Linked DNA regions of Homo sapiens. The protein of the gene in region 2 purifies or fractionates together with the protein of the main gene of each other region. This does not show direct contact. Each region holds a gene or a part of one and is shown on either strand. Other genes may lie near its edges.

Region 1 (4,151 bases), about 110 Mb from region 2:
ACCACTTGTAATTATATTTCCTTTGTTGCTTTCGCTGGCAGGAAACTCTAAGTTTATGAATCTCTTCTTTAATACTAAATAGATTCTTATAGCATGACTTTATTCGTATTTTTTCCACTGACCTAATTTATTGTTCTGGCCTTGTGGGAGAAGGGGCAGTGGTCCTCTTTGCCTTTTAAATTCAAATACTCATGTATTTTTGCAAACCATTTCAAATCTTTTTTTGGATCTAAATGGAATAGGAATAACAAATTTAAATTAATGCTCAACTTGCTTATTTATAGACTTTTTGCTCTTGTTTTCCTTTTTTCAAACCTCATCCAGCCCTCAAATCCAGCTTTTCCATGCACCCCTTCATTCTTCACTGATCTCCATTTTCTCGGAGCTCTTGTGTTAATATAATTTTGCATTTTACTAAGTATGATTTTGGATACCTCCTAGTGTTTCATGTGTATTAGTCCTGTAGTTCTGGGTTGTAGTTTTTTTAGTGGTAGGGACCATGGCTCATACTTTTCTGAATCTAGTAAAATAATATTGTATCAGAAATGCTTTCTGTTTACACTATAATTGTAACAAACATTGAATTTTTTAGCTTATTAACTCTCAGAGCACCCAGTACATCTTATTTAGAATTGCAGGAACCCATTTTTGTTTCTCTACAGCAGCCGAAGCTTGTTTCATAGATCTTGCAAGACTATTCAATCATTCAGTTAAAATTCCTTGACCTCCTGCTGGATGATGTTCGACAGGGCATTCATCTTCACGACACCCTTCGCGATGAATGGTAACATCTGGGCGGGTAGAGGTCCATTTCTACAGCAACCTGGGGGAGGAACAGGTAGGGTAGGTTTTGGTGTGGGTGCGATTCTTGGGGACTTCTTCAACAGGTAGGACATCAAGTCTGTAGCCAAAACAACACCTGGGCGAAGGGCAAATACCGGAGCCCCGACCGGCTCACGCCCAGTAATGCTTTCTCTGGGTTCTAACTACGTGATCAGGTCGTCTTGGTTTGCCAGGGAAAGCCCAGCGTCTTGACAACCCTGTCAGTTCCGAACAAACCGGGTCGATTGGTCACCGGGGCTCGAATCCCGACTGATATGACCCAGCGGGGACAGAGGATCCCCCTCAGTGCCACAAGTACATTCCCCACCGAGCAGCGCGCCTGCGCCAGTTGCTCTCATGCGTCAAGACTACAGGTCCCAGCAAGCATCGAGGCCCTCTCCAGGCCATTCTTCCGCCGGCGGGGAGCTCTCGTCGGCGTATTTGTTAGGTGTGGCGCGGAAGAGTCCGTGCGTGATGACGTCGACGCGGCGACGTCGAGCTCTTCCTCCTTTTCACGGCGTCTTGCATTACTATTGTGCGGCTGCAGGAGGTGTCGAGCGGCGTTATTTTTTTTTGCGGTTTGCCTTTTTTTTTCTTTTTTTTTTTTTTGGAACCGCGGTTGTTTAAAAGCCTGAGGGAACCTGGAGAGGGGCTCCCACTCCCTACCCTCTTTCCTCCGAGTTTGTGACTCCGAGATGGACAAAGTGTGTGCTGTTTTTGGAGGCTCCCGAGGCATTGGCAGAGCTGTGGCCCAGTTAATGGCCCGGAAAGGCTACCGACTGGCGGTCATTGCCAGAAACCTGGAAGGGGCCAAAGCCGCCGCCGGTGACCTCGGCGGTAGGTACCAAACTGGAGTTGTCCAGTTGTATGGCCGCGGTCCAGGCGCCTAAAGAAAATCTCCTTTGTAAAAAGAGCGGGTCTGGCCTTTAGGGCTCTAGGGTTACTCGATGTAGCCGCGTGCAGGCGCTCTCCCGTTCCAAGGGTAGAATGCGTCTCGTGCAGAAACCCGCGATCTCCCTATGCCTCGCAGAATGCCGGCCACGCAGCTTGCCGCCGAGGGCTGAACACTTGGGGTGTTCTTTGAGACCTCGTAGTCTTTTGAGGCCCCGCTATACGCACCCTCCGCCCTGCGGCTAGTGCTAACGCTGAGGAGCTTCCCTGTTGTGGGAGAGAGCCACGTAACAGTTTACTTTTAATGTAGGGAAAAGGGCGAGTTCTCGGCCCCCGGAGACAGGGCTGGGTCGAAAGGAGTTCAGGCAGGAAAGGTGGGAGTGCAGGTACCAACGGCTCCCTTCAGTTTTGCCCAAGGGCCGTGCCTTGGCCCTGCGCGAATGCACAAAGCAGTGTTTGATAGAGAAACCCTTTTGAGTACCAGCCAGTTTTGAGATATACCTGGTTTGCTTTAATGTTATTAAATTGTTTTGGTGAGTTTTGCAAATGGACAATTGAACTTTGTTCTGCCAAATTCTTTTTTATTGCATTTAAACTTCAGGGTTTTTTATTTCCGGCTTATTATGAATGGATTAGTCATTTTGTGAATATAACTCTTCATTGAGTTTAGGGAGAAATAGGACGTTAGATCCGAAGATGCTATTTGTTTAATCACCAGAATGGACAAAATTATACTTCATTTACTATCAGGGAGGCATGGGGAGAATAGAGGCCTAGGGGTGCGTCTTGTGGCTCTTACTGTTTTTGTGTATCTGGTTTTTTTTTTTTTTTTTTGAGAGGGCTTCCCATTATGTTGCCCGTGCTGGACCCCAACTCCTGATTTACTGGCTCTAGAGATCTTCTCGCCTCAGTCTCCCAAGGACCTGGGACTATAGACGCCAGGTGTGGCTGTTCATTTTTAAGTTAACATTATTGATCGGTTTGGTATCACCTGTTCAGTGCTGGTTGGGAGACTATTGGGCTCTCTAAAAGAAAAAAGATTCTGTAAGTTATAGGTCAGGGAGAGTGTCAGTGAATGCTTCTTGAAGCTCATATTCCTTACCATTCTAACAAAGGAGGGGAAGAGTGGTGACCCTTACTGTGTCACCCCAAGCCATCAGTGTTTGCTGGACTGGATTGAAGCCATTAGTTGGGCTTTCAAAGGTGGTTGTGGACACAAGTCTTCGGGTGAAAACCAAGAGTAAGAGAGACACAGGATGCTTTTGGGCCCTGCATTCCTTTGAATCGTGTTCCATGAGTGATTGGTTTTCATCTAGAAAGTATAATTCCCCGGGTCGCTTACTGTTTCCAAAGGCTTGATGGGGTAGTGTTGGTGTAAGCATATTTATCAAGGTCAGACAGAAAATAAAGAATTGTTTTAGCTTTTAAAAACAATCCTACATTTTAGAGTATTAAAATGGTAGATTACATAGGGAATGCTTTGTTTTCCTTTGAAGTGTAGTTTTTTTTTGGCATTTAACCATTTTTTAAAAGTGGTAAGTAACAGTTGCTTTTAGTAAAAAGTGTTTTTTTCCCCCCGTGGTTTGTAGTTTTAGCATTTTTATAGCTTCCTGTGTTGTCTCATCTCTCCTGATGGTCAGGTTTGAATAATAGTCGTTATAATATATGTGCCATAGTGCATCCGTAGCACTTAAAAAGAAGAAACCCAAGAGTTCCCGTTCAGGGCCAAAGAAACTAATTCAACAAAAACCTGACAGAATTAGACATAAATTTCAAAAAAGGAATATAAAACCCAGAAGACTGTCGAATTGGGTAGCATGAATTCAGTGTTAAAGCTATAAATATTAGATGAATCTTACAGAGCCTTTATAACTTGAAAAAGCCCTCCCCCCTTTGTTGATTAAAAAGAAAATTTTAAAATTAACTTTCTGTAGTAGTACTTTATTTCCTCTTTGTTCCCGCATCCCAGTTTCATTAGACCAACTCTATGAAAGCCAGGCCTCATGACATTACTTTTTTAATCTTTAGGTTCTAGATTAGCACAGGCCTGCCATCTTAGATAGATGCTTAACAAATGTGTATTGAGTAAATTTAAAATTTGAGTTATAAGTAATTCTTATTTAACTTTGTTGTGTAGGAGATCATTTGGCATTTAGCTGTGATGTTGCTAAAGAACATGATGTTCAAAATACATTTGAAGAGCTGGAGAAACATTTAGGTCGAGTAAATTTCTTGGTAAATGCAGCTGGTATTAACAGGTTGGTCACAGATTTAAATAAGTTTCTTATATATATATTTAAAACTTTTATTCCTAATATGTCTTTGATTGGTATAAGTTAATATGTTTATTTTGCTTCTAACTGGGAGAAAAAACTATTTTAAAACTTGTCAATCCATAAATTATTTTCCTTTATATTGAGATACAACATATAATAAAT
Region 2 (3,500 bases):
CTGAGTTCTCCTGATTGAATTTTGTCCCCTTCTTGTATAAGGAAAGAGTTGATGTAGTTTCCTGGGTGTAGATGGTTTGAGAGATGGTACTGCCTATCCCTAAAATGAACCAGGCAGCCCTCACACTTCCCCACCAGCAGTGAGAGATTCCTGGCTCAGACACAGCCACACTACCTTGCTGCCCCTGTGCATGTCTGCCAGGAAACTTTTCATTGTGCCTCTCTCTCTTGTCACGTAGCCCTGCGTTCTGAACTCACGGTGGCTGCTGCAGTCCTGGTGCTGTTGGTGATTGTGATCATCTCACTTATTGTCCTGGTTGTCATTTGGAAACAGGTAGATATTTTCTCATAAAACTAAAGATCTTTGAAGCCAATGAGAACAAGCATAGCAACCTAGTTCAGTGCTTGGCACAGAGAAGGAGCTCAGCAATTACATGTGGAGTGAACGTTGTTGGACTCTACTGTGTCCAGTCACTGTGCTGCTTCAGTGAAGCTCTGGTGCACTGGGACTTTGGTAATTCACCAGTTACCTGTCCTGGTCATTTATAGAAACCGAGGTATGAAATTCGCTGGAGGGTCATTGAATCAATCAGCCCAGATGGACATGAATATATTTATGTGGACCCGATGCAGCTGCCTTATGACTCAAGATGGGAGTTTCCAAGAGATGGACTAGTGCTTGGTAAGTTCCATGGGGTAACCTCCCAAGACTCCCTTTTCCCTTGCACACAACTTTACAATTTATAGGCCTTGGCAGAATAGAGATCTGAGCTTGTGCTTAGTAAGAACTAGGCAATGGAAATTTGCTTTCAGAAATACATTTCTGTCTTGACAGTAAGTTAATTGGATCATTGCAATGATTTTTTTAAATCTCTTTCCATAACAAATTATAGTTAAGGAAAATTTTACAAAGGGAGAAGAGAATATGAAGAGGGCTGGCAAAGATACCCACCAAAATTGCTTTTCTTTAGAAATGACACAAATTGAAAATGAATTTCTGTGACTAAAAATGAGCAGATGAGAAATGAATGAGGACAACCACAAAATGTATTTTGATTCAGTACATTCTGAAGATGCATTAGATACTCCTTTTTACATATTTGGAATATGGAATATAAAAATATAGGTACATTTTGAGGCAAAATATGTAAAAATAAGCAAGCCAACTTATCACAAGCATTTCAAGTATTTCAATCCTGGGCTGAGACCAAGTATATGAAGCTTTAGTCCAAGGGAGTATTTCTTTTTTAAATCACATTCCTAATGAATGAAAGCAAGACAAAGGCAAATGAAAGTAGAGGTAGAGGTTGTGTTATGATGAATGATCTAACAGTATATATGTTAAAGAATGCCAAATGCAGGTTTTAATTATCCACCGGTCTCATTGCAAAATACAGAAGAGTTTAAGTCTTCTTAGAGAGTTAGGTAAACTGAAATCAAGCAAGGCACCAGAGTGAAATCACCTTTGCAAAAATTGTAACTGAGGAAATTATGACAGTGAATGAGATATGACCTAACCAACTCCATTTTGCTTTAGCCTCCAAGTTGTCCTTGTTCCTTCCTGGGCATAGGCCGAACTAACTTTGAGAGGAACTTAGTTTATAGTTTGACTTTGAAAAAAAGACAATAATAGCCCTTTGCCAAAACAAACCCTCTTTTTCCCTGGGAACTAGACTGCCTTTGCGGGACTAACGAATTAGCTACAAGATTAGAAAGTATGGTTTAGGGGTCACTGTTGTAAAACCTGAGGTCAGTGCTTGAGATATTTTGGAGACCCTGTATTTCGATGCACCAGCTGACACCACCCAGGTCAATAAACTGGCTCATCTGATCTTGGGGCCCCTACCTAGGAACTGACTCAGTGCAAGAGGACAGCATCAGCTCCCTATAATTTCATCTTTGACCCAACCAATCAGCACTCCCCTTTTCACCCCCTACCCACCAAATCATCCTTAAAAACCCCATTCCCCCAGTTTCAGAGACACTGATTTGAGTAATAGCAGAATAGTAGAAATTCCCCCAGTTTCAGAGACACTGATTCGAGTAATAGTAGTAATAGTAGAATAGGTCTCCCGTACAGCTGGCTCTGTGTGAATTAAACCCTTTTTCTATTGCAATTCCCCTGTCTTGGTAAATCGGCTCTGTCTAGGCAGCGGACAAGGAGAATCCATGGGGCGGTTATAAGAGCTGCCCCCCAATTTCAAATATTTATATCTAAGCTTTCTTTATTTTCCTGCCTATTTCCCAACAAGGGATGAGGAGCTTAGGGAGTTAAAAAGTAGTAAAATATGGGGAAAAGGGCATAATTCCCATTATACCAAGAGGCATTGCTGGTGAAGCAATACCTTTCCAGGTACGATTTTCAGTAACACAGACGTGCAGTAAGAGGCAGTGTTGGCTGTTAGTGTCTTTTATGAGCCAAGTCTTTTCCTGGCTTGGCTATCCGTGGTGAGACTGACACCCCGGGAAATGTTTCTCTCAGGGTGAGCTCTTTCAGGGTGGGACAACAGCTTCAGTGTCTTTACGTATGTCTCCTCCCAACATGAAGCTAATTGCTGTGCTCTCGGGCATGTTTAGCTCTTGGTAGAGTGGCTTTCCTAACAAATAGGGAGCAGTGAGCCCAGCCTGAAGTTTTTATTTAGTCACTCCTTAGAATCAGTGATATTTTGAATACTGAAGTATTTCCAGTGGCTAGTAATTTACTAAGACAAAAGATGCCCCTGTTTGCATATGGAAAACAGAAGGGGAGAGAGCCAGGAGGTGTGGGTGAGAGCCCCGAAGGCAAGAGGATCCCAGGGGCTGGCCCAGCACGGAGCTGGTAGACAGCGCGCTCACACCAGGGAGGGCTGCACCCTCCTTTCTCCCGTCTGTGTTTTCTTTCCCTTGCAAGTGTTATTCGACAAAAGCAATTATGCTAATTTCCTTCCCTGTGGGCTCAATTCCTTTTTTGACACGATGACTTGGAGGAGTCATTATGATTACTCCAAACAGGAAAGACACTCGCCCAGCTGTCCGCCCGCAGAGAGCTGGCTACGGTGCAGAAAGCTGAGGAGGCGTCTGGAGTTTTTGGGTGTTAATGATTCTGCCTGCCCACAGGTCGGGTCTTGGGGTCTGGAGCGTTTGGGAAGGTGGTTGAAGGAACAGCCTATGGATTAAGCCGGTCCCAACCTGTCATGAAAGTTGCAGTGAAGATGCTAAAACGTAAGTGCTCCTTCCTGGGGATTTTTTGAGCACGGGGATTTTTTGAGCATGGGGATATTAAGGGAATTTCTCAAAATCATGCAGCTAGTAAATAAGACATTTAGGACTAGGTCCTGATTATTTTGACTCCAGGTTTTATGTGTATTTAGATTAGGTTTATTTAGATTGCTCTTGCTGCCTGTATGTTGGAAAATTAAGAGCTTGTTATTTCCAGTGACTTCTTTTTACTAGAAAGACCAGGAATTAGTTATTAGCACTGAGGCCAAGTAGCTATCTGCTTCTTTTAGACTTCTGGTAAAT

What was found. Proteins that work in one complex are often made in the same cells at the same time.
Region 1: the proteins of PDGFRA (region 2) and CBR4 purify together in Homo sapiens (affinity purification with mass spectrometry; one large-scale study listed by BioGRID and IntAct). This does not show direct contact.

Annotation. Positions count from the first base shown.
Region 1 is NC_000004.12:169,007,456-169,011,606, reverse strand, and holds the start of CBR4 (3-oxoacyl-[acyl-carrier-protein] reductase), read left to right. Parts: upstream 1-1,351; 5' UTR 1,352-1,517; coding exon 1,518-1,659; intron 1,660-3,850; coding exon 3,851-3,971; intron 3,972-4,151. UniProt on the Homo sapiens protein: Component of the heterotetramer complex KAR (3-ketoacyl-[acyl carrier protein] reductase or 3-ketoacyl-[ACP] reductase) that forms part of the mitochondrial fatty acid synthase (mtFAS).
Region 2 is NC_000004.12:54,274,293-54,277,792, forward strand, and holds part of PDGFRA (platelet-derived growth factor receptor alpha isoform 1 precursor), read left to right. Parts: intron 1-238; coding exon 239-333; intron 334-548; coding exon 549-681; intron 682-3,095; coding exon 3,096-3,200; intron 3,201-3,500. UniProt on the Homo sapiens protein: Tyrosine-protein kinase that acts as a cell-surface receptor for PDGFA, PDGFB and PDGFC and plays an essential role in the regulation of embryonic development, cell proliferation, survival and chemotaxis.